Homo sapiens: one gene and its partners. The protein of the gene in region 2 purifies or fractionates together with the protein of the main gene of each other region. This does not show direct contact. Each region holds a gene or a part of one and is shown on either strand. Other genes may lie near its edges. The genes, in order: PREPL, METTL2A, TOP3A, ACACB, TKT, NDUFAF5 and PC.

Region 1 (3,194 bases), on a different chromosome or scaffold from region 2:
AGGAATGACAGCCACTATGTTGTGTACACAAGAGAGCTGGATGGCATCGACAGAATCTTTATCGTGGTTCTGAATTTTGGAGAATCAACACTGTTAAATCTACATAATATGATTTCGGGCCTTCCCGCTAAAATGAGAATAAGGTTAAGTACCAATTCTGCCGACAAAGGCAGTAAAGTTGATACAAGTGGCATTTTTCTGGACAAGGGAGAGGGACTCATCTTTGAACACAACACGAAGAATCTCCTTCATCGCCAAACAGCTTTCAGAGATAGATGCTTTGTTTCCAATCGAGCATGCTATTCCAGTGTACTGAACATACTGTATACCTCGTGTTAGGCACCTTTATGAAGAGATGAAGACACTGGCATTTCAGTGGGATTGTAAGCATTTGTAATAGCTTCATGTACAGCATGCTGCTTGGTGAACAATCATTAATTCTTCGATATTTCTGTAGCTTGAATGTAACTGCTTTAAGAAAGGTTCTCAAATGTTTTGAAAAAAATAAAATGTTTAAAAGTAAATTATGGCTTATAGGAGCTTATAACTTTATTCAGATAGCATCAATCAGGGATGACCAGAACACATTAGGACCCCAGATTATTCAAAAACTTTAACGAATTTTAAGGGGAAGAATTTTATCTTTTCCCTTAAAATGCAGTCATAGAAATTAGAGGATGACTCACTGCCACAGTGTCTAAAAGCATTTGCTAGCAAAGAGGCAGGACACTAATTTGTAAACTGCTCAACTGTTCTGACTGGAAGGGAGGCCTGGAGCTCTGCTATCACCAATCCTTCCCTTCCCTCTACTCCACATCCTTCTAAGGAGCATGATTTGAAAATTACTTTCCTAGGTTAATGGGCATGTGCATCAATGGAGAGAATAGTATAAGCAAGTGAGATGTAGACTAAGCAAAATTTAGATGGAGAAGCACATTTTAAAAAATTAATAACTTAAAAGTCTCAAGTTATTAATTTTTTTTTTGCTAACTCAATTGGAAGTAAGACTATGAAATATTTCAGTGTGTTTCCAATTCCCAGTTGAATGCAGTGTTTCAGAATTTCAGGTATTTCTTAAGATCCTCGAAAACACTGGTGCTGTCAAGTCCAAGTTCCTCGTACAGGAATTTAATTTGGGCTGTAATCTAAAAGAAACACATTAAAAAAATTAAATAGAAGGCCTTTGTAGTAAAATGCCACTGTTTAAGCTTCTCTTTATCTATCCATCTTTACCTAACCGTGAAGTCAGCAATTTATGGCAAGAATACTTTCATTCGAGAGAGAGGCAGAAGGCTTCCAACAATTAAGATTAAATTATTTTCTTTAACAGAGCTCACGTATCAAGTACAAGAGAGAGACATTTCTCTTGATTGACACAGTGTCCCTCCCTCCCCTCCTGGGTCTCACCCATAGATAGGACATTTGTGAAGTGGCTTTGTCATAAACCTGCTGCAACCACTGAAAATGTGAAAACAACATGTATCTAGTTCGGGAATCTGTCCACTGAGAGGGCCTTGATAACATACCTTTTTGTGAGAATCCTCAATTACATGATTGCCTCCAGGCTGAATATCTAGAATAATATTAGGGGTCTGATAGCCTGGAAGAGTTAACATGTAGAACAATTAGAAGATTGTATGGGATCTTCTTTGGAAGATCGAGACCCATTCCTCCCCTCTTCTTTGAGTACTCAGTTCAAATAATAGTAAAGGAATAAAAAGCAAAAACCACCATCATCAACAAAAAGATGGGAGGGGACAAGCAACAGAAGACAAACTTCTGACACAGCGAAAGCAGGAAGAGGCCGTATGGAAAAGACTATATGGTGCCACACGGACAAGGTTGAAACCCAGGAGATCATCAACCTGCCCTGTGGAATCTGAGAGTCTTATGCCCTGGAAACACCAACTACAGCAATGGATGGGGGTGACAAATGGAGATGAATACAGGGAGACTGATATGGCATGTAGTTTCAAGGCAAAAGGGAGGGATTCTTATCTCATAAAGCTGAAACAGCTAGCTAGAGGAAATTCATGCAGCTAAACAGTTTGGGCACTGATGGCCCAAAACAAAAATCTCAGAATCTGTCTTTTAGAGATTCCCAAGAATAACGGCTCAATAAATATTGTTAAATGAATTAATAATTGTATGGCAGTGCATCTCCAAGTTATATCTGATTCTTAAATTTCCTGTTTCCTTTGTGTCCTGCCTATCTATTTTAATACTGTCCTTTGAAAAAGAGGTGAGGCAGTGTATGTATAGACATGTAGTTACGTACACTTTAACTGGGGAGTCAACATAGCAAAATAATTGTTTGCCCTAAATCCTGGGCAGATGATTTGGCTACAGCCTGAAATATATTCCTCTGAGCAGTGTGCTGTGGGTAGTAGTCTGTTTGGCCATGTTCCCTGCTTCTAGGGGGTCTCCTACCTTCACCTGTGTCCTTAGCATGCTCCGCGATGGCTTCCTTGAGTTTCTCAGTATAACTTACAATTCCTTTCAGAGGTACCCGTTCATCGTTTTCATATGCCGTTATGTGAATTGAAGGATAATGCTGAAAGAAAATACATGCACGAAGAGTTTACATTATTTCTTATGGTCCCTTGCCACTATAGAGACTATGAAAAATAATTACCTCCAATTTTTCCCTGTAAGTGCTCTATGCTTTTTCTCACTTGCTATCTTGAGAGCGCCTCAGTATTACAGTAGTAGACTACTTGTTATCTGGAATAGCCTTTTCTTGACTAAAGGACCTTAGCTAATTTAGTAATTAAGGCATGATAAGTCTATTCCCCTGAGGTATTAAACATGGAGCATGAGCAGAGATGGTGCTGAAGATATTTGGGCATCATAAGTAGAAACATCTCTAAAGCTCCTATTTTTGCTTCAGCTTGGATAAGTTTTTTTTTTATTATCTTCTGTGTAAATTCAGGATAATCTAACACAATTGTCTTTCACTACCTGAGGTTTAATATTTTGATAGGGACAGTAACGTTTTATGTAGTTCTTGTGTTTTTCATCAGATGAAGGATTCCCCCATTCTTCTAATTCTTCTAATGTCAGAGGAAGTGTAGTGTCCATCATGGTGTTGAGAACATCCAAGAAAGGTGCCTAAAAAAAAGGCAAAGAAACTTATACTTCAAGTAAGAGGTTGGTAAGTGAGTTTCAGAAAAACATTCTATTTTATGAATATA
Region 2 (3,500 bases):
TTCTAGCAAGATATTGAACACAGCGATCTTATTTAAATGGCATAAAGAGGCTGTGGCAAAGATGCCATCTACATTATTTTACATGCATTGATGATATTGATAATTAATGGCCATAACTTGAAGCTAAGTCAATCTCCCATTTGAGGTGGGTTCCTCAGACTGTAACTTCAAGAGCAGAACAATCTCTTTTCTTCAGTGTTAGCTACTAGGACTTGCCATTTTCTTAGAAATTTCTGAGAACAAATTGTAGAAATATTTAAGTGTATATTAGTAATGAGGCTAATGTTTTACTTAATCCTGTTAATGAATACTGTGGGCTAAATTGGCAAAGTATATATTATATGAAACCTTTGAGAAACAGTGGATTCCAGTAATGCATACAGAACTGGAATGTCATTTCCACAAGGGGTTTAAAAACAGCTATAGGGCCGGGAGCCATGGCTCACGCCTGTAATCCCAGCACTTTGGGAGGCTGAGGTGGGTGGATCACTTGAGGTCAGGAGTTCGAGACCAGCCTAGCCAACATGGCAAAACCCCATCTCTACTAAAAATACAAAAATTAGCTGGGCATTGTGGCGCATGCCTGTAATCCCAGGTATTTGGGAGGCTGAGGCAGGAGAATCGCTTGAACCCAGGAGGCAGAGGTTGCAGTGAGCCAAGATTACGCCACTGCACTCCAGCCTGGGCAACAGAGCAAGACTCCATCTCAAACAAAACAAAACAGATATGGTATAATAAATATATCTGGTGTTGGTCTTTGTGGTTCCAGGCACAGAGTTCCAAAAACCTTAAGAATTTCCTCAGCAGGCTGGGCGCGGTGGCTCACACATATAATCCCAGCACTTTGGGAGGCCGAGGCAGGTGGATCACCTGAGGTCAGGAGTCTGAGACCAGCCTGGCCAATGTGGTGAAACCCTGTCTCTACTAAAAATATAAAAATTAGTTGTGTGTGGTGGCATGCACCCTTAATCCCAGCTACTAGGGAGGCTGAGGCAGGTGAATCACTTGAACCCGGAAGGCGGAGGTTGCAATGAGTCGAGATTGTGCCACTGCACTCCAACCTGGGTGATGAAGCAAGACTCTGTATCTTTTGTTATTCATAATGAACTCCCTCAGGACCACACTGAATTTAATGAGATGACCTGGGGTGGGGCCAACACTAGTAAGGGCAAACCGATTGGAACTTTCAGCTTCACCCACCAATGTCCTGAATAGAAATGCAGATTATGTTGTATGAAAACTATTTTCTTCTTCTCCTTTTAAAATTAATTTTCCCATGAGTCTGTGTCCTAGCTGTATAAAAACTCTTGAGGCTGGGAACGGTGACTTATGCATGTAATTCCAGCACTTTGGGAGGCCGAGGCAAGAGGATCACTTGAGCCCAGGAGTTTGAGACCAGTCTGGGCAACAAAGTGAGACCCTGTCTCTACAAAAAATAAACAAAAATTAGCTGGGTATGGTGGCATGTGTCTGTAGTCCCAGCTACTTGGGAGGCTGAGGTGAGAGGATTGCTTGAGCCTAGGAGTTTGAGCCTGCAGTGTGCTATGGGCGCACCACTGTGCGCTAGTCGGGATGACAGAACAAGAGCTTGTCTCAAAACTAAAAAAAACCCCTTGATGAGCTTCCAGGTTGGTGAACACATCCGTGTGCTAGGAGGACACTGCACTGAGCTCCTCAGGGTCAAAGCTCCTGAGCGTGAGATCCTCTGAACCCCACTCTAATTACTTCTTCAGCTGGCTGTTAATCTGTATCCTTCATAACAAACACATAAATGTAAGTAAAGTGTTTCCCTGAGTTCTGTGAGCCATTCTAGGAAATTATTGAACTGGAGATAGGGCTACCCTGATTTACAGCCTGTAGGGCAGAAACACGGAGGGCCAGATTCACAACTGGCATCTGAAGTGGGGGGCAGTCTTCTGGGACCGAACCCTTAACTTGTGGGATCTGACACCAACTCCAAGTAGACAGTGTCAGAATTGAATTGTAGGACACCCAGCTGTTTTTGAATTGGTCAGTGTTGGCAAAAACCCCGCACATTTGGTGTCAGAAGCGTTCTGTTTAAGTACACAAAACCAGTGTGTTTTCATCAGAACAGGAGACATCTTCATGTATGTTAGCTTTCTCAACTCTACCATGGGGGTGATGACAACTCAGCCACTGACTGTTCTTCAGAGATCATGAGAATGGAAAAGTTGAACACATTTGTTCCTTAGAAGAAGAAGAAGGCGCTAAATGTTAACACTAGCAAGTTTTAAGTCTAATTTTCCAAATGACAAAGATAATCAAATTAAAACAATCCATAAATGAACAATGTAGAAATCTGAATCTGACATAATCCATATTTTCCAATAACCATTACTGATAGTTTGATGCAGCAAGTTTTGAAAAAACCTTTACTTTTTTTTCTTGCTACATTGCCCTGGCTGGTCTCACACTCCTGGCCTCAAGCAATCCTGCTTTGGCCTCCCAAAGTGCTGGGATTACTGTCGTGAAGCAATGCGCCCAGCCAACCTTCACTTTTATCTTCTTTGCTATCATAAACTTTTACAACATACTTACTTGTTCGTTTGTAAAATTGGAAAGACTGTGTTTCCCACACCACAGCCAACCTGCAGACAGAAATGAACTATTAATCACAGAACTTTCCAGAGTTAATTCCCTAAAGCTAGAAAAGCTAGAAAAATAATAATCAACAAGAATCTGGCCTAACTGTATTAGGGAAGGTGTAGTGACCAGAGCTAAACAGTACTCATGACATTTGTTGATTTTGATGTTGACTTCAGGAACCCTTAAAAGACAAGAGCACGGGTTTTTATTAGCAGAAACGAGGTGGTCTAGAAAAAAGGGCAAGGATTGCTTTTATCTTTTGAGTTCTAGCAAATGGTCCTGTAGATGAAGTATTTTCTTACTGAGCTTATATTATTATTGTGAAAATATTTGTAATAGACTGTGCTGAAAAATGTATGAAAAGGGGACCCTGACAACCTTGTCCTAAACACAGTGCTGCGTGGTAATGAAGACAGCAACTATTTATTAAGGGCTTAACTATGTGCCAGATACTGTTCTTAGCCCTTTTACATACATTATCTCCATCCTCATAACTATAAAGTGCAGAGGCAGCAGTCTCACTGCTCAGAGAGGGTAAGGAAATTGTCTAAGATCACACCATAGGACTCAATCCCAAGGCTGACCAGTTCCAGAACCAGCTTCCAGTAACGTGCGCAGTCCCCATTTATGAATTTACATTATACCAATCTAGACATTTTTCCAGGTCTAGACTCTGCAACACCATCCAAATGCAGAGGAAGAGAATTATCCCAGGCCTAAGAAACAGGCACCATCCTAACTACCCTCTCCATTCCTGTAACTGTATTAGAAGAGAAGCAACAATTTCTTCTGATCTGGGACTTTTTTCCAGAGTTATAGCATGATCATGTTGAGCTCCTTCACCTGTATGATGCAGTGGCATGTGACAGGTACAGCATGATGCCATTAATACA
Region 3 (3,500 bases), about 44 Mb from region 2:
TGGGAGGGAGAGTACCTGCAGAGGACCTCATCCGTGGCCCATGTGCACATATAAACAAGAACACTCTATTTATGGAGTTCCAAAGTAGAGAAAGTCAGCAGCAGCAGCAGCACTTACCAGCCTTACACACGTGGATAATCTCAAACCCGATGTTTTCGCCTTCTCTATCACAGTCAGTCCAGATCACCAGAGCCTGGCACTGGCGAGTCTCTCGTTCCAAAGTTTTCTTAAGTTCGCAGTGGAATAAGAGTGGTGAGAACAGAATTGCACAACAGTGACTTGACATCTCTAAGCTAAGGGGATCTGACTGAAGGTTAATGCTGCTCTTGGAGTGTGACAACTTGGCAAGGGAAAGAGAACAGAGAAAACTGCTCTCATTGGTGCTAATCATGATACAACCCCTTAGAACCATAAACGAGTTTCTAGAATAGAGGGTTTAATATAACTTCCCCAATATGACAAAACCTGAAATTCAGCTCTAACACACACACACGCGCGCGCGCGCGCGCGCACGCACACTTCGAGAGGTTCTGATTATGACCTAGTTAAAAAAAACGAAGCCGGCTGGGCGTGGTGGCTCACGCCTGTAATCCCAGCACTTTGGGAGGCCGAGGTGGGTGGATCACGAGGTCAGGAGATCGAGACCATCCTGGTTAACACGGTGAAACCCTGTCTCTACTAAAAATACAAAAAATTAGCCGGGCATGGTGGCAGGCACCTGTAGTCCCAGCTACTCGGGAAGCTGAGGCAGGAGAATGGCATGAACCCGGGAGGCGCAGCTTGCAGTGAGTCGAGATCGCACCACTGCAGTCCAGCCTGGGTGACAGAGCAAGACTCCATCTCAAAACAAAACAAAACAAAACAAAACAAAATGAATCCCAATTGAATTTCATCCAAAGTTTTATCAGTTCTCAATAAATTAACTGGCCAGGCTCGGTGGCTCACACCTGTAATCCCAAAACTTTAGGAGGCTGAGGCGGGTGGATCACGTGAGGTCAGGAGTTCGAGACCAGCCTGGCCAACATGGTGAAACCCCATCTCTGTTAAAAATGCACAAATTAGCCGGGTGTGGTGGCAGGCGCCTGTAATCTCAGCTACTTGAGAGGCTAAGGCAAGAGAATCGCTTGAACCTGGAGGCAGAGGTTGCAGTGAGCTGAGATTGCACCATCATACTCCAGCCTGGGGGACAAGAGCGAGACTTCGTCTCAAAAAATAAATAAATAAATAAATAAAAATTAAAAATAAATTAACTATACATGCCCTGACTGCTTGACAACTGGCAATTTACTGTCAAACAGGCATTTATACTTTGTAGCCTCTTTCATCTAACAAGGGGTGAGATGGGGGCTACGCGCTAATAATTTACAATACTTAGGATTATTTTTTGATAGGGTCTCACTTTCTCACCAGGCTGGAGTGTGGTGGTGTGATTACGGCTCACTGCAGCCTCAACCTCCTGCCTCCTGGGATCAAGTAATCCTCCTTCCTCAGCCTTACTAGTAGCTGGGACTATAGGCATACATCACCATGCCTGGTTAAATTTTTTTTTTTTTTTGAGAGATAGGGTCTCACTATGTTGCCCAGGCTGGTCTCAAATTCCTGGAGTTCATGTGATCCTGCCTTGGCCCCACAAATTGCTGGGATTACAGGCATAAACCACCATGTCCAGCCTTTATTCCTAGGATTTAAACAACTACCATTCATAAAAAAAGTTTACTTCAGTCCCTTGGCCACTTAGCCACATTTATACAATGGGTGGGAACCAGCTTTTTAAATCATGGTAGTGACTTTGGTGGAAAACCTTATCTCCAAATGCCAATGCATTAAAAACAAAGAAATCACTCTGTTTGACTCTGTGGTTTGACTCAGTGCCATATGTCTTCCAAAAGACCCTACCTTGATGTCTACAAAATTCTCTGGGCAGTACTTTTCAATTTCTGCTTCAAAGAGGACAAGAGGGTTGCAGCTCTGCCTAGAAAAGAAATGAAAACAGAGTCCCAACTCAGTACATGACAGAGAGCCCTCCAATCTAATGACAGCAAACTGTTCCAATGGGTTCATGGTGTATCCCCAAAAGAAAAGGTCCCGGTGAATTGAAAGTAAGGCTATGACCCTCTGCATGACACACTGTCCACTTCTCCAAGAGTGTGAACAGGACTGATAAGATGGCATTCTGGAGCCCTTTCACAGGTAAATGCAATCCAATGGCTGCATGAAAAAGGTCTGGCAATTTTGAGGAACACCAAAAGTGACTGTTTAAAGATTTAATAAAAATTCACAATGGATCAGATAATCCTAGGTCATCTTAGTATTATAAATTACTGCTGGGCGTGGTAGCTCACGCCTGTAATCCCAGCACGTTGGGAGGCCAAGGTGGGTGGATCACGAGGTCAGGAGATCGAGACTAGCCTGGCTAACACGGTGAAACCCCGTCTCTACTAAAAATACGAAAAATTAGCCAAGCGTGGTGGCAGGCACCTGTAGTCCCAGCTACTCGGGAGTCTGAGGCAGGAGAATCGCTTGAACCCGGGAGGTGGAGGTTACAATGAGTCAAGATTGTGCCACTGCACTCCAGCCTAGGCGACAGAATAAAACTCCGTCTCAAAAAATAAATAAAATAAATAAATAAATAAATAAATTACCAAGGCACAGTGGCTCACGCCTGTAATCCTAGCACTTTGGGAGGCAAAAGAAGGCAAACCCTGCTTTGTTTAAGACCAGCCTGGGCAACAGGGTGAAACTCCATCTCTACTAAAATAGAAAAAATTAGCTGGGTGTAGTGGCACATGGCTGTAAGGCCAGTTACTTGGGAAACTGAGGCATGAGAATCGCTTGAACCCAGGAGGCGGAGGTTGCAGTGAGACGAGATTGCGCCACTGCACTCCAGCCTGGGTAACGCAGCGAGACCCTGACTCAAAAAAAAAAAAAAAAAAAAACCGGGCATGGTGGCTCACGGTCTGTAATCCCAGCACTTCAGGAGGCTGAGGTGGGCAGACCACCTGAGGTCAGGAGTTCGAGACCAGCCTGGTCAACATGGTGAAACCCTGTCTCTACTAAAAATACAAAAACTAGCCAGGTGTGGTGGCACGTGCCTATAGTCCCAGCTACTCGGGAGGGTGAGGCAGGAGAATCACTCGAACCCAGGAGGCAGAGGTTGCTGTGAGCCGAGATCACACCACTGCACTCCAGCCTGGGAGACAGAGTCTCACTCTGAAACTTTGTCTCCAACAAAAAAAAAAAAAAAAAAAAAAAAAAAAAAAAAAAATTACCCAGTAAGATCAACATGCCTCAAAATTCCTGTGAAATTTCACAACTTACTATAATCTGAAAGTCCTTCCCTTGAGAATTGTACTGACCATTTTCGAAACTGCATCTGGAAATCATGAGCCAGTAAATGTCCAGAAACTGAAGTCATTACCATGGTAACATTCTGAATGATGACAAAATTCAAAATTCAGTTAGTCTTTTTGCAGTTATTATTCTGCCAAATCATTAAAATG
Region 4 (4,163 bases), on a different chromosome or scaffold from region 2:
AACTCCTGACCTCAAGTGATCTAGCTCCTCAGCCTCCCAAAGTGCTGGGATTACAGGCGTGAGCCACTGTGTCTGGCCTGAAGAGACCTTTTCTATGTGTAGTTGTTTTCTGGGGCCCCAGCAAGGGTCAGAGTGGCTAAGGTATGAGCCCAGAGAGCAGGACTTCTGGAGTACAGCAGACTTGGGTGGAGGCTTTGCCATTTGTTATCTGATTGGCCTGAGCCCATCATGGAAATTCTCTGAACCTTGGTTTCCTGGCCTGTGGAATGGAATAAATAAAATCTCCTTCCTAGGATTGTCCTCAAAATTATGTGAGATCCCATAATTATTATGGCATACCTGGGGTATGCCAACTACCCAATAATCAATACCTTGGTTTCTCTGCTGTGCCCAGCCTGGATTCTCTGATACAAGGATCCCTGGATTCCTGGAATAAATGAACACGGTCTATCTTCCTAGAAAATCACCTTACTCTACGGTCATAAATTTACTATTATCACTGCAAACAGAGAGATCTATTAGGATAGGATGTGAAATGTGCATACATTTTTCCGATCAAATGCAATATTTCTAACTCTGTTTCCTGGTTTCCCTGGGTACAGGTGAACTCTACTTTGAAGTAACAAGTCACTGAATCACAAATTCAGAGGAAGCATGAGAACAAGGTATTCCAGGCCGGGTGCAGTGGCTCATGCCCGTAATCCCAGCACTTTGGGAGGCCAAGGTGAGCAGATCACTTGAGGTCAGGAGTTCGAGACCAGCCTGGCCAACATGGCAAAACCCCATCTCTACTAAAAATACAAAAATTAGCTGGGCGTGGTAGTGCTTGCCTGCAATCCCAGCTACTCGGGAGACTGAGACTGAGGAATTGCTTGAACCTGGGAGGCAGGGGTTGCAGTGAGCTGAGATTGTGCCATCGCACTCCAGCCTGGGTGACAGGACGAGACTCTGTCTCAAAAAAAAAAAAAAAAAAAGAACAAGGTCAAAGTTTCTACTGGGATAAGACTTCAAGGAAACCTCCATTTCAAAAGATTAAAATGTTTATTTCCCCATGAAGACTGGGTATCTCATGTAATGTAATACTCAAATTTCTGTCTCAGACCTAAAGGTGTTGAAAGTATGAGCGAGTTTACACAACACCTGAGCAGGAGCAAATAAAACTCTTAAGAGCTTCTGAAAGAAAGTTACAGATTAGAGATATTTTCATCTCTAAATCACATGAATTAGGATTGGCTGGGTCTTTCCACTTAAAACTTGGAGAAGTCATAAAAAGAAATCTTGTAAAGAACTCCATGTCACTATTAGCAGAAACATGCAATTTATAAAATGATATCTTTGGCCAGGCGCGGTGGCTCATGCCTGTAATCCCAGCACTCTGGGAGGCCGAGGCGGGCGGATCACTTGAGGTCAGGAGATCGAGACCATCCTGGCTAACACAGTGAAACCCTGTCTCTACTAAAAATACAAAAAAAATTAGCCGGGCGTGGTAGTGGGTGCCTGTAGTCCCAGCTACTTGGGAGGCTGAGGCAGGAGAATGGCGTGAACCCAGGAGGCGGAGCTTGCAGTGAGCACTCCATCTCAAATAATAATGATAATAATAATATCTTCACCTTTCAGTTTTTAAATTGCAAGTCCCATGTCCCGGGAATTCCCCGGTCCTGGGCAAAGTGGGATGGTTGGTCACCCAACCTATATGGATGCCCATTGATATTAAAAAATAAAAGTAATCACAATAGACATGAGGGAGAGAGTTGTGTACAGTGTGAGTGTACAGAATAAAAGGTCTGGGGGGTTTATACCAAAATGTGCACAGTGGCTACCTGGAGGAGGAGGGTTAGACAGGAATAACAGCAAGGAGACTTTTGCACGGTGCTGAGTGACTTTTTAACTTGCATATTATTTTGGAATGCATTTTTTCAACATTGAAAGAAAGTCATGTCTTCCTAGAAATATAGGATATAGGACCACTACAAACGCTTTACTCTTAGTCTCCTTTTTTTCTTTTTCTTTTCTTTTTTTTTTTTTTTGAGACAGAGTCTTGCTCTGTCAGTCAGGCTGGAATGCAGTGGCGCAATTTTAGCTCACTGCAACCCCCACCTCCTGGGTTCAAGCGATTCTCCTGCCTCAGCCTCCCAAGTAGCTGGGATTACAGGTGCCCATCACCACATCTGGCTAATTTTTATGTGTTTAGTACAGATGGGGTTTCGCCATGTTGGCCAGGCTGGTCTCGAACTCCTGACCTCAAGTGATCCACCTGCCTCTGCCTCCCAAGGTGCTGGGTGGCATGAGCCACCGTGCCCAGCCTTAGTCTGCTTTAAAAAAAAAAAAAAAAAAAAAAAGAACAACCATTTGAGGAAACAGAAACAGAATACTATTCCTTAAGACAGTAGCTTTGGAGGCAAAAAACAGAATTGTTTATAAAACGTTGTGGAACTTATATGGGAGCATGTCCAGGGATCCACACCACCATTTATAGAAGCAAAGAAAGGCCCTTCTCTTTCATCTGCGTTACATTTCGAGCTCTTCTGATTAGCTTCCTTCAAACATGACGGGAGTCGTTTTTCCCCGGGGACCCCAAGTGCATGCCTTCAGACAGGGTCTGCTCTCACTATACATTGGGTTCGAATTTACCTGGACGTTGGCAGAATGGTCCGGACCCCGGGGAGGGGCGAGCTGACTTACCACTTTATTCCTGCCGCTTTTCTCTTGCCATGTCCTCCCCACCGTGCATTCAGGGTTACATTTTCCAGGTTCCTTGTTTGCTGAGGGCCTGAATCTAAGCCTGCTAGCTGCTTACTCTGGGGACTGCAAATGTCACTTTTAGATTAATCAGCCCCTGCTGTTTAAAAATATCCCTGGAGCACTTAACCTTCAAAGCAGCAACAACCCGGGGCAAAGATGAGAAAGATCCCACGTCAAACCACTTGTGCAGCCCTGGCTACTCCTGGGAGAGTTCTGCTATCTGCCTTTTAATCCCATAACTCGCTTTATTTCATAATTCTTAGCTGTTGAAGCCATGAGGCATCTAAAGTCCATGTTGTCGTAAGCAGTAGGCAGAAAGTCATCTGGGCCCTCCTGTGACATGCTGAAAATTAACTGCCTACAGGTGTTGGTCATTTGAGAAACAAGCCCCCATTGAAAACCGTGAATGGGAAGGTGATCGCTATCAGGTCACCTGGCTTCTCTCCCCTGAAAAGATTTGGCGAAACCCTCTCAAATCACGCCACTTAATGGAATGTTTCCAATTTCTTGTGACTTGGGGATAAAAGAAAAAAACAGCTCCATTGCCACATTCTCATTCAGGGTTGACTGGCTCTTGCTAGGGTTGAGCACAGAAGAGGAAATTCAGCACACGCTGCAGTTACATAGTGTTCTGCAACGTGGGGAGGGCTGGCATGTGGGACAAAGGTCGCCTCCAAGGCCCAGCTGGAGAAGCCCAGCCAACTAGGCAGCAGGAAAGTGGAGACCACATAGGAGCACATTGTGCTCAGGCAACAGGGAAGGTGGAACCCACTTCCTGCCAACAATGATGGCCTTACTAAACAGCAAGTGGAGAAACTGGCGAGAGCGCTGAGCACGGGATCTGTGCAAAATGGTTTAAATGGAAATTGCTGCTGGGGCTGGTGCAGCCTGTTCACAGCTACTTTGTTTCTGGGCTTATTTTGCAATAAGGAACAGTCATTGAATATTGGACTTCTTGGGATTTTCTCCACTGGACTTGGAAGCATGTGCTCTGGAAACCTCAGCATTATCAGCTGTAACCCCACAGCACCAGGTACATGTTACAGGAACCGGGGTGAAGGAATGCAGGTCAAATGCCTGCACAATGCCCGGCCCGAGTCATATGTTCTCTAGCCACAGTAGCCCTTGTGATGGCTCTTAGTCTATTTATTAAGACAATAAAAGAGGTGACTCTCAAACAAACCTATGTTTCCAGGGAGAGCCATCTGTGATTCAAGGACATTTTTATAAAATTCCATTGAAAAAAATTCTTAGGCTTCTAACTTCATGAAAAAAAAATTCTTTCCCAGTGATTCCAAATAATCATGATCTAGGCAGGGTGTTGACAGTGGCAGGACTATTAGGCTTTGAAATCAAGCTGATGTGGGTTTGAATCCTCCCTCCATTAGCCATGACTTTGAGCAAATGGCTGAGCTTCAGTG
Region 5 (3,500 bases), on a different chromosome or scaffold from region 2:
AATCATGGGGACAGGTCTTCCCCATGCTGTTCTCGTGATGGTGAATAAGTCTCACAAGATCTGATGGTTTTAAAAACGGGAGTTTCCCTGCACAAACTCTCTCTTTGCCTGCGCCTTCCACATAAGATGTGACTTGTTCCTCCTTACCTTCCAGCATGACTGTGAGGCCTCCCTAGCCATGTGGAACTGTAAGTCCATTAGACCTCTTTTTCTTCCCCAGACTTGGGTATGCCTTTATCAGCAGTGTGGAAACAGACTAATACAGTGATTATTCTTTAAAAAAAAGAATAATTTTTTTTTTAAAGAGGCAGAGTCTCGCTCTGTAGCCCAGGCTAGGGTGCAGTGGCTCAATCATGTATAGCTATAATCTTGAAGCCCTAGGCTCAAGTGATCCTCCCACCTCAGCCTCCTATGTAGCTGGGACTACAGGTGTGTACCACCATGCCTGGCTAAGTTTTGTATTTTTTGTAGAGAGAGTCTTGCTCTGTTGCCTAGGCTGGTCTGGAACTCCTGGCCTCAAGCAATCCTTCCCTCAGCCAGCCATTATTCTTAACAGTTTACAACCTCATCCCCCCAGGCCATATCTGACCACCGCAGACAAACTTATGGCTAGAACCTTCCTGGGGGGCCGTTCCTACAAATCACCTGGTGGGCGCTAGAGCAGCACACCTTTCTGGTCAGGCTCATCACCCACCCTCTGAAGGCTCAATCTCTCAAATGTTTGTTTCTTCCCTGCTGATAGGAGGTGGCTTACAGGTATCCCAGAACCCCTCAGAACATACAACCCTCCCCTTTACCAAGATAAAGGCAAGTGGCTCAGGCCTGGGCTCCTGGTGCCTAGTCAGACAGGGGCCTGGGGGTGGGTCTTTCTGAGACTTCTGGGGTCTGGGCACAGGGCTGGGGGCAAAACAGGAAGTCCTCAGCCTAAGCACTCTGGCTGAAGAGCACATGATTGAGAGCACGCACTCTGTGCAAACCTGGCCCTGCCAGTCACTGCTGAGGGACCCAGGGCAGGTCCCTTAACTCCTGAGTGTTTCCTCATTTGTAAAGGGGGCCGGTCATGGCACCAGCCATAGCGGATGTTTAAAGAGCAAAAGAGGCCACGCATATGTATTACTCTGCCCTAGCCAGGAAAGAGGAAGAGTCTGGGGGCGATGGTGAAGGGTGGGTCACCCAAGGACCACTCCCCAAAACTACCCAGGTTGGGGGTGGGGAGTAGGTGTGTTACCTGGCCTTGTCGAAGTATTTGCCGGTGTAGGCCATCCCACAAGCGGCCCCGAGGCCCTGGCCCAGGGAGCCAGTGGCCACGTCGGTGAAAGCTTGTTTCTGTCATAACAGAAGGCCACCGTTAATCTGAGAGGAGAAGGGATCCTGGTCTCACCCGCCTAGGGAGCCACACTCCCACCCAGCCCAGCAAGCCCTTCCTCTGCAGAAGGTCAGGCCCCAGGATGGCCTCTACCTAGCATGTGACTTCTTCTCCTAATGAACTAATTATAATTATAGGTTCAAATCCCAGCCCTGCCCACTAGCCAGCTATGTGGCCTCAGGCCTCAGGCAAGGGACTGAACCTCTGTGAGCCTCAGTTCCCACATCACCCACTTCACAAAGTGCTGGGAGAGAGAATCATGAAAAAATTGACAGAACATTTGCCCCTCGTGGGGACCCAGACCATGTGACAGTTTTTGTGGTAATCCATGAAGTCTTAACGTTTGCAGGGATGCCAGATGGCACCCCAAGGAACAAACTGGGTCCCTTCCCCAGGGTTTCGCCAGCATCCTGCAGCCACTCCCTTATCGAGTCCCCTCTCTTCCCAAGCTGTAGCTACCTAGCCAAGGAGGCCCAGTGCAGAAGGGTAGCTTGGGGAGAGGCCCTCCCTGAAGTCATCCCAGAGCACCCTGGCTGAGGCCTCAGAAGGCCTTCCCCTTTGGCACCAGCTTGGGTTGAATACGTGTCCCCAAAACACCTGCTTCTTTCCTTCCTCAACTCAATGCCCTCCTCCGCCTTTCAACACCTTTGGCTTCTCAGTGGGCACCCCCTACCCCCGTCCCACATGTCTGGGAAATAGGAAGTGGAGGCAGAGGCATGGGAGGCTCTGGCAGGAGCACTTACCGGGACCGGGTGCCCGTCCAAGTCGGAGCTGATCTTCCTCAGGTTCAGCAGCTCCGCCTCGGCCAGGAAACCAGCTTCAGCCCAGACCGCGTAGAGGATGGGAGCTGCATGGCCCTGCCGGGAGATGGATGGTGGGGTGAGGTCAGGTGGGGAGCGGTTCTACTTCGGGCTGTGCCTACTTCACACTGACCCCTGGGGCCCGGCCGAGCCGGCCAACTGCAGCATCCATTTCAGGGGAGGAAGCAAGTGAAGGCCACTTCTCCCCTTTCAGCCCTCTTCAGCCTCTTGGTTTTCAGCCCAAAGTTCCCACTGCCAAGGCCAGGCAGGCACTAAGACAGGTGCAGGGGGCACAGCTGTGAGGCTGGACGAAGCCAAAACCCCAGCAGGCAGCCGGCTGCCCTAATCCCTGGTTTGTGGCATGGGAACAACTTGGACAGACTTCTAAGCTCTAAAGCCTGCCCGAGAGACCAAACGCCACGGAGGCAGGCCTGAGCACAGGTGGATTTCAGGGATCTGTGGCTGTGATTCCACCCAGAAGGGGGGGGTCAGGGGGTCCCCATCCAAAACCCTGCTACAGCACACCACCACCCCGAGGGGGCAAGCCGTGGCCTCGGGAGCGCTGGCACAACACAGATAGAGCAGGTAGGGAGCCACAACCCAGACCGAGATGCCAGTCCTGCCTGTCAACACCCAGACTGGGCAGAACACACAACAGATGTTTCCGTAGTCCCCTACTCCATTTCTTTGAGTTAAAGCGTTGTTTATGTACCTGGGCTCCATGGCAGAGCAACCCATCAATTCAGTCCTGTATTCCTTAGCCAGCTGGGTCAGCACAGAGCAGGACACTGAGGGAGAGGCCAGGACGAGCAGGGAGAAGGCACCTGGGAGAGGTGGGCCCAGCCAGGTCTCCTCAAAGACCACTCACCATTCCAGGGCCCGTGTGACCCTAGTCCCAGGCAAGGTGTGGCTGGCAGTGGGCAGCTGGGCTCTTACCTTGGAGAGCACAAAGCGGTCATTGTGCGGATTCCGGGGGTCCTGGGACTTGTAGCGCATGGTGTGGAAAAAGAGGACAGCCATGATCTCTGCGGCGCTGCAGCATGACGTGGGGTGGCTGTGGCCCAGGAGAGAAGACAGACACAGGCATCATGGCCCTGCACTCCTGAGCTATTGTGCTCAGCTGTACAGGGACCTGGGGGTGCATGTCCTGAGGAGTCACACAGGCCTGGCTTATCAGACAGCCACGAGCTCTTGTTCCCTGGGAGGGTGACACATGGTCTCAAGAAGGCCACTCCTGGCAGTTTGGGGCCTGGGCCAGCTAGTGGGTGCTGGGGACTGTTGTACCTTTCCAGGGGCATCAGATCCTCAGAATCACGGCAACTGAAAATATCTGG
Region 6 (3,027 bases), on a different chromosome or scaffold from region 2:
TGTACTCATTTGTGAGCCTGGTAACAAGTATGCAGTGTCAACAGTCCATCCTAATGAGCTGTCGCAACTCAACAGCTACGGCAGAAGGGAACTGGCTGAAGAATCTGTGTGCAGTTATGTAGCTCACTGAATTCTCATGGTCTTCCCAAATTCTCTGATTTCATTTGGAAATTAGCCCATCGAGGCTTCCAAAAAATTTATCCTAATATTCCCAGGAAAGAAAATTTGAGGCCTACTAAACTTAATGTGGGAAGTTAGTTCCATTTCAAGATATCATGGAATCAAACCTCCAGGCAAGAGCATTTCAGGTCTGGTGTTCTCTGAGAACAAAAGTAATACAGTTTATGTTAACTTTACCTAATTGTAAATAAGGGGGCTATGTTTTATGCTGAAAATAACAACTCAGAATACCTTGCCCACCCTAATACACCTCCTGAAGACAGTGTATCGCGTATCAGTTATCTATTGCTGTGTAACAAATTACTCTAAAACACAGTTGCTTAAACCACAAACATTTATCATCTCAGTTTCTGTAGATAAGATATTTGAGAGTGGCTTAGCTAGGTGGTTCTAGCTCAGGGTCTCTCATGAGGTTGTGGTCAATGCATTGGCTGGGACCACAGTCATCTGAAGTTTGGGCCTGGAGAATTGCTTCCAAGATGGCTCCCTCACATGGCTTTTGGCTGGAGGCCTCTGCTCCTCACTTCTAGGTCTTCTCCATGGAGTTGAGTGGCCTTACAATATGGCTGCTGGCTTTCCCTAGAGTGAAGGATCCAAGAGAGAGTAAGGAGGATGCAATGCCTTTTATTACCTAGTCTCAGAAGTGACACACCATCTATTTGTTGGAAGGGAATCACTAAACTCAGCCTGTACTTAGAGGGGAATGAAGTGTCCCGTCTTAAAGAGAAGCATATCAAAAATTTGTGGATAGATTTTAAAACCACCACAGATGGCAAAGCATTATTTTCTTATTTGTTAACAGTAACTTATCAGTGTTCACCCCACCTTCTAGTATTTTCAAATTGATGTTTTTTAAACCAGCATGGTAAAATAACTGTCATGTATGTATTCAGGTAGAGAATTAAAATATACCAATATCTGAAAAGGCAAGTCTGCTTATGATAAATTTCCTGAAGATTAATTTCACATCATTAACCACAACCCCTCCCCAAAAAAGCTCAAAATATTTCTTAAGCAAGAGAGGCTAATGGTAACTTACAAAGGAACAGAATAATAATCACTGCATCAACTATCTTTCTTTTTTCCAAATATCTACTAATATTCACTTCTTTCCTTCACAGAAGCCAATCCACGGTAAAATACTTTTATTCCACTCCTACTTAAGGAATACATAATCAATACAAAAATTGTACTTTTTTTTTTTCTTTTTTGAGACGAGGGTCTTGCTGTTGCCCAGGCTAGAGTGCAGTGGTGCGACAGCTTGCTGCAGCCTTGACCTCCTGGGCTCGATCAATACTCCCACCTCAGCCTTCTGAGTAGCTGGGACCACAGGCTTGTGCCACCATGCCTGGCTAATTTTTTTTTTATTTGTAGAGACAGGGTTTCATCACGTTGCCCAAGCTGGTCTCAAACTCCTGGGCTCAAGCAATCCTCCCGTCTCAGCTTCCCAAAGTGTTGAGATCACAGGTGTGAGCCACTGCAGCCGGCCAAAAAACTGTACATGTCTTTAATGCAGGTCATACTGTAATTGCTTCCACCTAGTGGATGAAAATGGTACTAAAAGAGTTTGAAAAAATATATAAACTTCCCTCACAGGTACTTCATGACTCACACACTTCTGTAACTTTTTACAATCATATCACATACTTGATGTATATAGGTAGCTTACATCTCAATAAATCCTACAAATTCTTCCTATAAAGCAAAAATTCTTTTGTAGGTATACATTTTCATATTTACCTTTGGAATTCTCCAGGCCAACCTGGAATATTGCTAAGAACCAGGAAATAAGCCAAACAGTCTCCTGGCAGCCAACAGGTGTCACGGTGTGCACATACTAGAGCCCTGTCAGACTGACAACTATAAAAGCAGAGACTAGTTGGATGCCTGGCACATGAAACTCAATGAAGATCTGTTAAAGGAACCAATAAAGCTCATGAATTTTATTCCAAAGGAGTCTTTCTCCCAGAACCTAGTTCCTCTTTCCTACCTTAATACAAAAGTCCTAGAAATCTTTCAGTATGAATTCTAATCTTATAGCTAAACAGAGAAGAAATGACTCAAGAAAGTTCATTTTGGTCAAGGTGTTGAGATTGACAACTGACAGCAAGTAAGAAAAGTGCTGGAAAAGACACAAAACCAACCACAGCATTCTTGGGACCAGTCTGGGAAGAAGCAATACAGACAACTTGAGTTTATGATATTATCTGTGGGGTTATCAAGAAATGGTTATTGGCCAGGCCTGGTGGCTCACACCTGTAATCTCAGCACTTTGGGAAGCCAAGGTGGGCAGATCACAAGGTCAAGAGATTGAGACCATCCTGGCCAACATGGTGAAACCCCATCTCTATTAAAAATACAAAAATTAGCCAGCGTGGTGGCACGCGCCTGTAATCCCAGCTACTTGGGAAGCTGAGGCAGGAAGAATCACTTGAACCCAGGAAGCGGAGGCAGCAGTGAGCCGAGATTGCGCCACTGTACTCCAGCCTGGAGACAGAGCGAGACTCCGTCTCAAAAAATAAAATAAAATAAAAAATAAAAAAATAAACCAACAAAAAAGATGATTATTTATCATATACCATTTAAGAATGTAACATTTATGAAAAATTTTTGATAAAGACCTTTTAAAAGTTTCATTGCTTAAAAGGATGAGCTCTTAATCATTTGGAAAATGTGGTTATTCAGAAAAATTAGTTTCCTGAGGGCTCCAAACAATAAAAGCTTAATAGCACACTTCCAGCAGATTTAACTACAAAAATAATTTCACTAGTGTTATACACACTAAAATAAGTGTTTTCACTACAATCACTCACATTAAACAATAAGGGTCCTCAATTAGCTGTGTTT
Region 7 (3,500 bases), on a different chromosome or scaffold from region 2:
GAGGAGGGGACACAGAAGCTGGGACCTGGATGGGGAGAAGTCGGCCACGCACAGATCCGCAGAGAAAGCTCCAGGAAGAAGGGATAGCAATTGTGAAGTTCTCAGGAAGAACAGGCTTGGTGCTGTCCTGAGAGAGGGAAGTGTGAGCCCACGGCCTGAGGTGGGGCTGCAGCCACAGACAGGGCCCAGTGGTTGAGGCCTCCCTTCAGCCATGGACAGGACAGGAGGGACATGATCGATGCACAGTGGAAAGGATCTCTCTGGACTGGCGAGCAGCAGGGGCTGACAGACGACGCATGTCTGGGGCAATTCAGAGGCTGAGCTGAGAGACGCGGAGCCTCTGACAGGGGGAAGCTATGGGGGTCGGGGTGGGGCTTAGGAAACATCTGGGCTATGACAGACAAGATTCGTCGAGAGACCCCCCATAGAAAGCAAGGTAGAGGAAGAAATCCTGTATGGGTGGGTGGAGATGACTTTTCCTGCTATAAGAAGGGCAAGACAGAAAAGGCAGGGCTGGGAGTGAGGCAAGCTCACAGAGGGGGAAGAGCAGGGACAAGAACCTGGGCAGCATCACAGGGGCGGTGGTGTCTGAAGCCAGGGAGAGAACAGCCTGGGAGAAGTGGGTCAGGCCTGCGTCTTCAGGCCCACTGGAGTTGAGTCTGGCCGAGGAGGAAGAGCCAAGAAGGAGCCCAGGGGGGATGCCTGGAGGAGGGAGGGACGCACGGGTCGCTGGGCAGAAGCGAGCGGCTCTCAGGAGGATGGGGCGCGAGTTGGGCAGAGCATGACTCCCAGAGGCAGGGTAAGATGGGGGCTGGGAAGGGGCCACTGCGGTGACCAGGAGGCACCCAGGTCACACCCGGCTATGGTGAACGTGGGTAGAGTAACCTTGCTGGACTCTGGGCTCCTCCTCTTTCTAAAATATACCTTGTCCTTATTCATTGCACAGTGGAGAAACCTGGCGGACACCACGCTGACCGAGAGATGAAGGTTAATATCACTAGCACCGAAGGGATACCACACACCTCCTGATGGGGTTCCCGCTGCCGTGCACGGCCTGAATTTAATCAGGAGAAAGCAAGGGGCAAACTCAAATTCAGGGAAATTCCACAGAATAACTGGCTTGGACTCTTCAAACATGTCAAAGGTCGTGAGAGACAAAGACGCAAGAACGGTTTCAGATGAAAGGAGACCAAAGCAACAATGGTGAGAGCCACACACGATCCTGGATTGGATCCGGGTTTCTATTGCTAAGAGGACATCAGGGGACAACGATACAATTTAAATAAGGTCTGCAGGTTTGAAAGAGGATTGCGTTGATATCAATTTCCTGATCTTGATCAGTGGACTGTGGTTATGTTAGAGAACAGCCTCATTCTTAGGGAAAAACACTGAGGAACTCAAGGGTCCACGAGCACCACATCTGCAATTTACACCCACTCACATGGTTCAGGGAAAAACGGGAACAATGAAGCAAATGCTAGTATTGGGGGAACTGGGGTCAGGGGTACGAGAATTCTTTGTCTTACTCTTGCAACTTTACTGAAAGTCTGAAATCATTTCAAATTGACAAGTGAAAAGAACCATACCCACCGCTAATGCCGCTGGAGGAGATAACCTTAGGGAGTGCATGCCCCAGCACCTGCTGCTCAAGAGGTGCCGGGAGCACCAGCGAGGAGCTCAGGTGTGGAGACACCCTGCTCAGAGCAGGATGAACGTCAGACGTTATCACCCTGCTATCTCCCACATGCAGATCTACAATCCTCTAAGCCCTGCTCCAGGCGAGTTATCGGATGCTGCCCACTAGGAGGACAGGTCTTTCCCAGCTGGGAGCAGGCGGCACTGGCATCAGAGAGCAGGTGTGGGGTGTAAATCTCACCCTCCTCCTGGGCACCAAATGTCTACTCTGCTGAGCGCTGGGAAAGGCCATGTCAAAAGAGCTCAAGTTACCACATAGGGCAAAGTCAGGAAGAGGCGAGGGGAGCCTTCGGGACAAGCACAGCAACAAGACAGCAAACACAAGTGGCTCTTGAACCCACGAGAAAGCAAGAGATTCAAAATACAACCATGAGGTGCCACTCCTGCCTGGGAGCTTTGTAAATGCAGTGCTGAGCGCCAGGAAGGCCTTCAGGAGGCGGCCCGCAGGCACTGCTGAGCATCACGGCAGCTTCTCCGGGAAGCTGTTTGCAAAACTTATCAAGAGCCTTTAAGGTATTTATGCCCGGCCAGGCGCGGTGGCTCACGCCTGTAATCCCAGCACTTTGGGACGCTGAGACAGGCGGATCATTTGAGGTCACGAATTCAAAACCACCCTGGCCAACATGGTGAATCCCCGTCTCTACTAAAAGTACAAAAATTAGCCCAGCATGATAGTGGGCGCCTATAGTCCCAGCTACTCGGGAGGCTGAGGCAGGAGAGTTGCTTGAGCCTGTGAGGCGGAAGTTGCAGTGAGCCGAGATCGCGCCATTGCATTCCAGCCTGGGTGATAGAGCGAGACTCCATCTCAAAAACAAAACAAAACAAAAAAAGCCGGGCACAGTGGCTGACGCCTGTAATCCCAACACTTTGGGAGGCCAGGGCGGGTGCATCACGAGGTCAGGAGATGGAGACCATCCTGGCTAACACGGTGAAACCCCATCTCTACTAAAAAATACAAAAAAATTAGCTAGGCATGGTGGCGGGTTATGCCCCTGAGCCCAGTCATTACTATTCCAGAAATCCAACCCCAGGAAATATTCCAAAATGGGAACCAAGATGTACGCAGAAAGATGTTCAAAGCAGCATTATTTACAACAGAAAATCATGAGAAGCAATTTAAAGATTCCACACCCTGGCTCCCACAGACATTATGTAACCATTAACAATAATGTGTTTGCACAGGTTTTGATGACATGGGAAATGCTTGTGATGTAATGTGAAGCCAAGAAAATTTAATGGTAAACAACATGATCTCATGAAGTTTTTTTAAAGGAATGGCAACAACTGTAGGACTGCTTGCATGCCACCCTCCTCACTCCCACGTGCTATGGAATTGCTGTAGAGTTGTGTTTTCCTCCTTCTTTATGCTTTTCTATATTTCCATATGGAAAATTTCCATATTTTCTCCATTGGGGATGCGTTATTTATAATTAGAAAAAAAAGAAGAAATATACAGAAGGGACAGGAAGAGCTCCGCAGGAAAAGGCGAAGGGAGCTCCTGCTACACCGACTCCTTGGGTGGGAGGACTTGGCTATGTGTCTCCCAGGAGCCTAGCACCCTCCCCCTCCTCACCTGCTGGCCTGCCTATAGGTGAGCAGCCTCACAGCTGGCAGCAGCCCACTGGCACCGAGATTCTCAAACCTCCAGGGCAGTTTCAAGCTTTTTCCAGGGAGCCCCAGTCCTTTCCTCCCACCTGGGTGGGTTTACCCTGCGACCACAGGGGCACTTACCCGTGGTTTGTGGGTAAACAGGTCATTTTTGTTGCTCTCCTCCCCTGTCCACACCACACTCACTCCCCACTGCC

The links.
Region 1: the proteins of METTL2A (region 2) and PREPL purify together in Homo sapiens (affinity purification with mass spectrometry; one large-scale study listed by BioGRID and IntAct). This does not show direct contact.
Region 3: the proteins of METTL2A (region 2) and TOP3A purify together in Homo sapiens (affinity purification with mass spectrometry; 2 studies listed by BioGRID and IntAct, with this or other methods). This does not show direct contact.
Region 4: the proteins of METTL2A (region 2) and ACACB purify together in Homo sapiens (pull-down; one large-scale study listed by IntAct). This does not show direct contact.
Region 5: the proteins of METTL2A (region 2) and TKT purify together in Homo sapiens (pull-down; one large-scale study listed by IntAct). This does not show direct contact.
Region 6: the proteins of METTL2A (region 2) and NDUFAF5 purify together in Homo sapiens (affinity purification with mass spectrometry; one large-scale study listed by BioGRID and IntAct). This does not show direct contact.
Region 7: the proteins of METTL2A (region 2) and PC purify together in Homo sapiens (pull-down; one large-scale study listed by IntAct). This does not show direct contact.

Annotation. Positions count from the first base shown.
Region 1 is NC_000002.12:44,320,301-44,323,494, forward strand, and holds part of PREPL (prolyl endopeptidase-like), read right to left. Parts: intron 3,112-3,194; coding exon 2,962-3,111; intron 2,555-2,961; coding exon 2,431-2,554; intron 2,138-2,430; exon of another isoform or gene 1,601-2,137; coding exon 1,527-1,600; exon of another isoform or gene 1,146-1,526; coding exon 1,056-1,145; 3' UTR 340-1,055; coding exon of another isoform or gene 1-339. Other genes in the region: amino acid transporter heavy chain SLC3A1, read left to right, coding at 1-339. UniProt on the Homo sapiens protein: Serine peptidase whose precise substrate specificity remains unclear. Does not cleave peptides after a arginine or lysine residue. Regulates trans-Golgi network morphology and sorting by regulating the membrane binding of the AP-1 complex.
Region 2 is NC_000017.11:62,426,897-62,430,396, reverse strand, and holds part of METTL2A (tRNA N(3)-cytidine methyltransferase METTL2A), read right to left. Parts: intron 2,610-3,500; coding exon 2,560-2,609; intron 1-2,559.
Region 3 is NC_000017.11:18,304,995-18,308,494, forward strand, and holds part of TOP3A (DNA topoisomerase 3-alpha), read right to left. Parts: intron 3,431-3,500; coding exon 3,357-3,430; exon of another isoform or gene 3,319-3,356; intron 2,502-3,318; exon of another isoform or gene 2,479-2,501; intron 1,973-2,478; coding exon 1,897-1,972; intron 227-1,896; coding exon 118-226; intron 1-117. UniProt on the Homo sapiens protein: Releases the supercoiling and torsional tension of DNA introduced during the DNA replication and transcription by transiently cleaving and rejoining one strand of the DNA duplex.
Region 4 is NC_000012.12:109,115,224-109,119,386, reverse strand, and holds the start of ACACB (acetyl-CoA carboxylase 2), read right to left. Parts: upstream 2,801-4,163; 5' UTR 2,683-2,800; intron 734-2,682; exon of another isoform or gene 603-733; intron 1-602. UniProt on the Homo sapiens protein: Mitochondrial enzyme that catalyzes the carboxylation of acetyl-CoA to malonyl-CoA and plays a central role in fatty acid metabolism.
Region 5 is NC_000003.12:53,239,023-53,242,522, forward strand, and holds part of TKT (transketolase), read right to left. Parts: intron 3,221-3,500; coding exon 3,103-3,220; intron 2,224-3,102; coding exon 2,110-2,223; intron 1,327-2,109; coding exon 1,229-1,326; intron 1-1,228. UniProt on the Homo sapiens protein: Catalyzes the transfer of a two-carbon ketol group from a ketose donor to an aldose acceptor, via a covalent intermediate with the cofactor thiamine pyrophosphate.
Region 6 is NC_000020.11:13,819,054-13,822,080, reverse strand, and holds the end of NDUFAF5 (arginine-hydroxylase NDUFAF5, mitochondrial), read right to left. Parts: 3' UTR 501-3,027; downstream 1-500. UniProt on the Homo sapiens protein: Arginine hydroxylase that mediates hydroxylation of 'Arg-111' of NDUFS7 and is involved in the assembly of mitochondrial NADH:ubiquinone oxidoreductase complex (complex I, MT-ND1) at early stages. May also have methyltransferase activity.
Region 7 is NC_000011.10:66,874,884-66,878,383, forward strand, and holds part of PC (pyruvate carboxylase, mitochondrial precursor), read right to left. Parts: exon of another isoform or gene 3,427-3,500; intron 1-3,426. UniProt on the Homo sapiens protein: Pyruvate carboxylase catalyzes a 2-step reaction, involving the ATP-dependent carboxylation of the covalently attached biotin in the first step and the transfer of the carboxyl group to pyruvate in the second.